Linked DNA regions of Homo sapiens: region 1 is linked to region 2. The links come from fine-mapping of genetic effects on gene expression. Tissue or cell type: whole blood. Region 2 holds a variant in brackets; the other region holds the start of a gene. All regions are shown on one strand. Distances are from middle to middle. Region 1 holds the start of LINC02937 (long intergenic non-protein coding RNA 2937). Region 2 overlaps LINC02937 (long intergenic non-protein coding RNA 2937).

Region 1 (4,384 bases), 5.9 kb before region 2:
CCACATTCTTGCTACTCAAAGTGTGCTTCATGGACTAGTGGCTTCAGCCTCACCCAGGAACGTGTTAGAAACACAGAATCGTGTCACCGCCCCAGACCTCCTGATGCAGAATCTTCATTTTAGTAAGCGACCCACTGCCCCCGCGCCCCCTGATGATTTGGGTGCTCATTAAAGTTTGAGAAGCACTGTTGGAGCTTGCCCTGAAGTTGTAGTGCGCTCTTACGGATTTCAAACCAAAAAGCATTACCTCTGTGAAGCCAGTCTGGAGCCTGGCTAGACCTTCTCCACCACCTCGGGGGCTTCTTATGTTCCAGAGTCTAACACTCTGGCCAGATACCAGGGACCTTTCACCCTCAGAACCTGTGCTCACATGTGGCAGTGAGCAGTGCCTGCACCTCAAGGCACCGCATCTTCCCAGCTACAGTGGGCCTGGCTGCTCCAGCTGCGCCCAACATGTGTTAGTAGGGGAATTAAATACCCCTCTCACTCCCAGTTTTGTGTATTTAAAAAATCCTCGGAAGAGAGTGGTATATGAGGTTTGAGGCTTATCAGCAGCTGCAGCAGCACAGGCCACGTCGTAGCTGTGAGTCATAGACAAGCATGCACACTGTGGCTGCCTGAGGCCTCTGAGCTGCCTTCCTCAGTCCTTCCCTCTGCAGGGCTTGGGCGTGGCGAGGCGGCTTCTTCAGCAAGTGCTGCGGTCAGCGTAGCGGGATTCAGAGTGCAGCTTGTCTGAGTGTCCTCTGCTTCAAGTTCACCTCGGCTGTCATCCCCCAGCAGACCACACATGCCCAGGGGAATGACCCTTTCTTACCACTGCGTCTTCAGACTGGGGTTGCTTTCTCTCCATCTCACCTTCTCCTGTACCACCTGAGGTACTAAATCTTCCAGGAAACCTTCCTTGAATGTCTTCTGACATCCCAGTGAGGGGCTCCTGATATTCACTTCCATAGTGCTTTGGTCACCTACTGCAGCATAAAACCACTCCAAATTGAATTGCTTTGCTCACAATTGCACAGGCCAGGGATTTGGGCAGGGCTTGGCTAGGCGCTTTTCACAAGGTGGGTCTCCTTTGTGGATGCTGTTTGATGCTGTCCTCTGAAGCCTCCACTGGAGGCTGGAGCTGCCTGTCCAAGCTGGTGGCCTGACACTGCTGCGGGGAGGCACAGGTGGCACTTTGATGAAAGCACCTACACGTAGCCTGTCTCTGTGGCTGGGGCTCTCTCACGGCGTGGTGCCTGGGCTCTGAGAGAGGGGGTCCTGAGAGCAAGTGCTCCAGGAGACACAGCCGAAGCCACGGAGCTCGCTGTGGCCTGGTCTGGAACTTTCACACACCACAAATGCTGCATTTCTGTTGGGTCAAATGTGTCACATAAGTCTGCACAGACTCGGAAGGAGGAGACTTACAGCACCATGCTGTGGCAGGGACAGCAAAGACTGTGTGGCCACGCTTCCTCTATCATGCGTGGCCAGGGTCTTCCCCACCACGACTCCTCCCCTAGGCTGTGCCATCTCACAGGGCTGCCTCCAAGCACATGCCTTCCCCAGCACCACACTCAGTGCTGGCCCTGTGAACACATCTGTGGGACTGATGGAGTAGAAACCTGCTTCAGCAAAAGTCGGGGAGTGGCAAACCTGGGAATGTAGAGAAGCACTCTGTGTGCAACACGTATTTCTTACGTACGCAATGATGGCTGAAGTCCATGCGGAGTTTATCACTACTGGTCAGTTTCAGAGTGTAGGTCAGAACCCGTGAGCCTTCCTTGCCAGAACAGTTTGGAGTGTCACACGAGGACTTCAGCCTGGACACCAGAACCAGGTGGGCAGTGGGGCCCATCACGTGCCACTGTAGTGTGAAGGGACAGGGTCTGCCTGCTGGTCTGCCCAGGGAGAAGATACTCCTAGCTCTTCAGGCTCCTACTCAATCCCCTGACAGCACCCCTTAGCGAAAAGGCACCACCCTCGGCGTCAAGCGCATCTCTGAATGAGGGTCATGGTGAGCTTGTGTTAGGAAAATAGCTCTCTTGCCAATACGCAGGCAAAGTAAGCTTCTGCAATTCTCAAAGTCCCGAGTTTGCAGAATTTTATTTACAGCAAAATGTTGGTTTACCCACAAACATCCTGCTTGGCTAAATATATCTCCTGCTCCTAGAACAGGACCTGTGGTTTTCAAGCATGGGTTTTGGCCTCCCTTCAGCATGCTGGCATGCATGTGCCCTGCTCTTTCTCCTGTGATCATCGGCATGATAGGAGGCGAGTGAGGAACTCAGTGTCTTCTGACACAGGCATCTCACAACACCAGTGCAGCCGGACCGTTGTCTGGTAGGTCTCTGTGCACCCAGGAGGACCTGGGCCTGCGAGAAGTCTGGGGCCCACTGCTGGGTATGCTCGTTTCTTGAGCATCCGAGTCACCTTTACAGTCTGCGATGATTGACGAGGTCAAACAGGACTCACTTGCATTGCCGGGTCTCTGTGGCGACAGGGAGGACTTGGAGGTAGGTGTTCAGGTCAGAAGGGACAGTCCTGACTTCCTCCACCGCTGTCTGCAGAAGCAGAGGCTGAAGCCACAGGCTGCGGGGGTGGGGAGCATGCTCCAGGAAGTGGCTCTCGGTGCTCCTGTCCACAGCCTCTGCAAGGAGAGGCACAGGCCCAGGCAAAGAACACAGTATGGCAAGTGAGGAGAAGGGGAAAAAATCAAATTACACGCTGTTTCTCCTTTGATAGTAGGAAGGCAGGAGGGAAGGGAGCTATGTAGACACAGGAGACGCTCCCAGTTCTGCTGGAGCTTAGGCTGGCCCTGGAGCTAAGCTTTAGCAATCTCCAAGGGAAAAGGATTGTTTAACAGAAAAATGGGGCCGAGGAAATACTGGACTTCAAATGAGAAGAAACTTTTTCAGAATCTTCGTGGCCTTGGGGCTGGTTGTCCTTCCCAGAACCATACTTTGTGGCAGTGGGGAAGTCATCTCTGATCTGAATCCTCCCCGGCCAGGATGTCAAATGGTCATTTACAGAGAATTAGTAACTGACAGGGAGAGGAGAGAACACCCTTCTTTGCCTGTGAGTGATGGCTGAGTCACACGCAGTGTGCGGTGATGGGCAACCATTATTTTTTGTTTGCTGAAATAATTTCATGGTGCAGATTGGTAGGGAGAGTTCATTTTTGAGAAAAGTCAGTTTCCTGTATTTGAGCAAAGAAACCACAAATCATTCTTTAACATTAGTAAATTTCTGTAAAGCACGAGTTGTCCTAAGTGAGGTGCGAGTGACACGAATCTTTTCCTCAGGCACAGAACTGTCATTCCTGCACTCTTGCGAGCCAAGGGTTAAATATTCAGGAATGTTCTGCCACCTGTTCTCAGGCAGCAATTTGAGCCTGGGAGGCCGCCCAGACAAGGACATGACAGCCCCCTCATGCCCCTTGCAGTTCTGAATGCCTCTCATCAATCCCGGGGTCTTGGGGGAATGGCAGAAGGATCCCCATCACAGTGGGGTCTCCCTTTTCACTTATAAATGCGGCGGGGCTGTGCTGTGCCTTCCGAGTGAGGAAGGGCTCTCTTCAGCCCACTTCACAGAAGCCTCCCTGGCAATCCAAGACCCCTAGTCCAGCTGCAGATGGCAAAGGAGACCCAAAGCACAGGAAAAAAACGCTATGGATAACCCTCAACAGCACTGCAGTGGTCTGAGGCTACTTGAGGCTAAGGGTGCAGAAGACCAGCCCAGGCACAGGTGTCAGGGAAGGCCCTGTCCTCAAGCGTTGGGAAGGAGGTGCTCTTCCAATCAGCCTCTGTCCCCCAACTGAGGGAAAGAGTCCGGCCAGGGGCCACCTGGGACCACCCAAGCCCACTGCATCTTCTCCTCCTTTTCCATCTGGTGACAGCTGCATTTCCGTGGGTGGCCAGGAGGAGAGTTTTTGATTCCCTTGCTGCCATGAAGACATGTGTGAAGAAAAGAAGCTGAGCTCACTCTGAGCCAGGTGTTAGAGGGCTATGGAATGAGGGGCTTTGGTGCTGGTGCTGCCTGGGGATGTTGAGTGTGTGATGGCTCCTAGGATCTGAGCAGGGCCAGGAGGACGCACAGGAGGGCCGGGGCGCCACCAAAGGCAGGGAGAAGCCCACGTGGACGTCATCAGATCCCCTCTTTGTTATTTAACTGAGACTCTAGTCCAAGAAGGACACCGTGTTGCGGGCCTTGAGAGACCCCTGGCATTGGCGCTCCAGCCAGGCCCCTCTGTCCTGTTGCTGTGTCTGCACTGCCCTGGCTTCCGTATGTTTTTGCTGTATGGCCAGGACCTGTGGCTCCCGTGGCCTGCCCTTGAGCTGCCCTTGAGCTGCCCTTGGACTCATGGAGCTGTTTTGCTGGCAGGCGCAGAGGCAGGAAGGACCCA
Region 2 (4,384 bases):
TGTCTTCTCAGAGTCACTTTTACAAATGTTGCCACAGGGTTATATTGCTTAGCTTCCTTCCTTCCTTCCTTCCTCCCTCCCTCCTTCCCTCCCTCCTTCCTTCCCTCTTTCCCTCCTTCCGTTCCTCCCCTCTTTCCTCTCTTTCCTTCCTTCCCTCCCTTCCTCCCTCCTTCCCTCCTCTTTCTCTTTCCTCTCTCTCCTTCCTTCCTTCCTCCCTCCTTCGCTCCTCTTTCTCTCTTTCCTCTCTCCTCCCTCCCTCCCTCCTTCCCTCCTCTCTTTCTTTCCTTCCTTCCTTTTTTCCTTCTTTCCTCCCTCCCTCCCTTCTTCTTTCCCTCTCTTTCTCCCTTTTCTTTCTCTCCTTCCTTTCTTCCTCTCCCTTCCCCTGCCCCACCCCTTCCCCTTCCCTTTTATAGACAGGGTCTCATGCTGGTGCCCAGGCTGGAGTGCAGTGGGGCAATCATAGCTCACTGCAGCCTTGACCTCCTAGGCTCAAAGCGATTCCCCCCACCTAACACCCCCCACCAGGCCTCCCAAAGTGCTGGGATTACAAGCATGGGCCACCAACCATGCCCAGCCCACTTAACCATTTCTTACATATAACTTGTAACTGACCTAAGATAAATTACGTGAATGCTACTCTGGAGGGAGGAGAGGGTGTCAGTGGAAGTCGTATGACTTTTGCATATCTGTGCCATCAAATATAGGTAAAAGTATCAATGGTGCAATTCTGCTGTTAAAATAGCATCCTTGGCTCTAAATAAAAGGGCTGATATTTTAAGTTGATTCATATATTGTAAATTAATCCAACCTAATTTTTAAAAAATTGGGGGAATGTTTTTCTTGTTAAGTCATGTTATAGAAATAAAAACTGGAAATTCTTGGCTTAAAAAATAAATAAAATTGAAACAGATTCTTAAAATAATCCTCAGCTTAAGGTAAGCAATTTTGTCTGTGACATATCACGAGTTTGATAAACTGGAGATGTTCTATTAAAAATATTGAAATAGAAATGTCTGTGACTCATGCCTGGCGGCATCTTGTATGCTGCACTCCTTGGATTATGAGCCTAGCCTTTTGGAAATGGATGGACTTGGGCCTCAGGCACAGGGTTGCTCATTTCTAGCTGCAGCTTCTTAAGCTTGGAGATTGGTTCCTCCTCCGTAAAATGGGAATTCCTAAGCCTCGCTCATGGAACTGTGAACTTCTTGGAGAGGCCAGTGTAAAGGCCGTGGATGGCGCCAGCACACACTTGTCCTGTCATTCCTTATCCACACATGTCATTTCCTTTGTGTGATATGGAGGAGACAGGGCCCCCATTTACTGGGCTTTGTGTAAAATACCTGGTGAGAGTGTTTGAGAAAGATTACTTGATAATCACGCACAAGGATGGTATCAATGAGCTGGATGTTCCCTAAGATGTGACTTCAAGCATTCCTATCTTAGGATACATATTCAGTTTGCCAAGTGTCCTGTAGAAAATTGTGTGGAAGCTCCACAGCTGTCTCACCAGCCCAGGTAGAAGATAGCATTCTTTGGGCCCTTCCTACAAAGTGAGGTCCCTGGACTGGCAGCATTCTTGTCACCTGGGAGCTTGTCTGAAATGCAGGCTTTCAGGCTTGATCCTGTGTAACCATGACTATGGCCACTGGAAATGTGGTTAGTGCCACATGATGAAAGCATACTCTTTTGGGTATATTCGATTAAATAAAGTATCTTATTAATATTAATTTCACTTTTTTTTTAACTTAAAGTCTCTACCAGGAAATTTTAAACTTCATATGTGACTCCCATTATATTTCTTTATTTTTTGAGACAGGGTCTTGCTCTGTCACCCAGGCTGGAGTGCAGTGGTGCAATCTTAGCTCACTGCAGCCTTGACCTCCTGGGCTCCAGTGATCCTCCCACCTCACCCTCCCAAGTAGCTGGGACTTCAGGCGTGTGGTACCACACTCAGCTAATTTTTTTTTTTTTGCGATGGAGTCTCGCTCAGCTGCCCAGGCTGGAGTGCAGTGGTGTGATCTTGGCTCACTGCAACCACCGTCTCCCAGGTTCAAGCGATTCTCCTGCCTCAGCCTCCCATGTAGTTGGGATTACAGGCACCTATCATCATGCCTGGCAAATTTTTTTATTTTAGTAGAGACGTGGTTTCACCATGTTGGCCAGTCTGGTCTTGAACTCCTGATTTCAGGTGATCTGCCCTGATCGGTCAATTTTTTTAACTTTTATTTTTTTAATAGAGACAGGGTCTCACTATATTGCTTCAAGTGGTCTTGAACTCCTGGGCTCAAGTGATCCTCCTGCCTCAGCTTCCCAAAGTGTTGGGAGTACAGGAATGAGCCACCTTGCCTGGCCCCATCATATTTCTGTTGGACAGTGCTGCACTCAAATCCATGTTCTCAGAATCTGTATTTTAACTAGATCCCTGAGTGATCTCTGTGCTATTAAAGTTTGAGAAGCACTGCTCTCCGGTAACTACAGCCTGTGGGCCAAATCCGGCCCAACGCTTGTTTTTGTGAAGTGAATATTACTGGAACGCAGTCACACCCTTTGTTCACACACC[A/T]TCTGTGGCTCTTTGTGCTTCAGGGGTGGAGCCGAATAGTGGTGAGCTCACAGCAGAGCCTGAGAGGCCATCTAGCCCTTATAGATAGTTTCCTCAACCCTTGGCCTAGGCCTTGTTCCTGCCAGCATCTTATGGTGTGGTCACCAACCCTGATGTGCCTGTTCATGTCCTTGTCAGGAAAGTCCCTAGGCACAAGTGCCTGTGGTAGAAAATGCTTTTGGAGGCCTGCTTCTTTCCTGGAAGTCACAGAGGAGGCCGAGGATCCATGGGATGGAAAAGATTAAAAGATGATTTAAGATCAAAAGTCCCTAGTGATATTGGAAAGGCCCTTCGAGGCCACCTGACATTATCTTGCTTGTTGATGGGTGAAGCAAGACCCCAATAGGGGGTGGGTGGTGAGTCCTTTAGGTGCCGGGTGAAGGAGCCGGTGGAAACCTGGGTGAAGCCGGATGGGTGCCACCTCCAGTTGTTTTTGCAACAGGGTGTTTTCCCAGATTGTAGGTGTTGGTGGGATGGGAAGGCCCAGAAGTGAGTTGTGCAAACAATGCAGAATTTTGTCCCCTCAAATTAACACTTGGTTTTAGTTGCAATATTTAATTTACTGTGCAGTTTTCAAATAATATTAAAAGAAGGCATGGGATTTGTACATTAATCAGTGGGAAGCATAGAGTTAAAAAGACAAGACAAGACTAAGAAATGCTGCTCTATTTTTCTGCTACTCAAAGCGTGGTCCACAGACCAGAGGCATGAACATTGCCAGGAGATTGCTAGCAATGCAGAATTTCAGCCGGCCCCACTGAGTGAGAGTCTGTATCTTAACAAGGTCCCCAAGTGACTCGCAAGCACAGGAGCGTCGGAAACCCATCATTTCAGTTACTTTTAGGCTTTGGTGTGTCTTGAAATCGCTTGGGAGGTTTCAGAATTCTGAAGCCCAGGTCCCACTTCAGAGCTCTGCCTGGGGAGAGGCCAGGTGTGGAGCCATCTGAGGGTCTCCAGATGGTTTGAACGTGCAGTGGAGGGTGAGAGCCTCAGTCAACACTGGCCTTGTTTTTGCTCTGAGTTTCACAGCCCTGAGCCCCAGTGTGCCATGTTCCAGGTAGAGTCATCTAGGAATTTGCTCCTGAGTCAGGCTGCTGAAGCCCACTGTTTGTTCCCTCTCCCTGGAAGGGTGGAGATCCAGCCCTCTCTGGATTCTCTGAACCTCTGGTGAAACTTTTGGAAGGTGTGACAAGGATTCTGACTCCAACTTCCATGGCCAGGCACTTGCATGGCAGTGAAAGAGCAACAGGATTTGGTGCTTCCCCCACTGGGTGATGCAGGAATGTTCTGGATATCAAACAGGGAGTTAGCTTACTGAGACATGATTTTCAAATCCATGAGCAGTATGCTTTCTTTAAGAAACACTTGTATAAATTGCATTACTGTGAGGAATGGTTCTCAGCACTTTACAGATATTAGCTCATAAATAACATGACAGTCCTGTGAGGTGGCTTTACAGCTCCACCCACCGAGAAGTGGAGTCAGTGTTGGTCCCCTTGATTCTGGGCCTGACTTAGTGGCCTGTCCACCAAAGTTACGGTGGAGTGATGCTACGTAACTTTCAAGGCCAGGTCATGAAGAGGTGACAGCTTCCTGCTGGCTCTCTGGAATACTCCTGGGCCACCGTGGAAGCAGTCTGACTGCCCTGATCGAGCATGGCCACCATGCTGCAAGGAAGCCCAACCAGCCCACAAGTGGAGAAGTGCTGAGGTACTGAGGTGCTAAGTGACTGTGATGGGCAGAGCCCCTGAGATTGGCAGGCCACTTGTTCCTGCATCAGATCTG

The links. PIP is the estimated chance that this variant, and not a neighbour inherited with it, causes the effect.
Region 1: it holds the start of LINC02937, and the variant in region 2 is fine-mapped to the expression of LINC02937 in whole blood (TOPMed, PIP above 0.99).

The regions. Positions count from the first base shown.
Region 1 is chr9:91,161,116-91,165,499 of GRCh38, reverse strand. It overlaps LINC02937 (long intergenic non-protein coding RNA 2937), which reads left to right and starts at 2,220. Exons shown (of 6, transcript NR_184105.1): 1 at 2,220-2,495. All of the region lies in intron 2 of LINC00484 (long intergenic non-protein coding RNA 484), which reads right to left. RefSeq lists enhancers at 519-813, 2,211-2,260.
Region 2 is chr9:91,155,263-91,159,646 of GRCh38, reverse strand. All of the region lies in intron 1 of LINC02937 (long intergenic non-protein coding RNA 2937), which reads left to right. The region is part of intron 2 of LINC00484 (long intergenic non-protein coding RNA 484); the gene reads right to left. Among named protein-coding and RNA genes, the nearest start is that of LINC02937, 5.8 kb to the left of the region's middle. The variant A/T (reference allele first, on the strand shown) is at 2,561.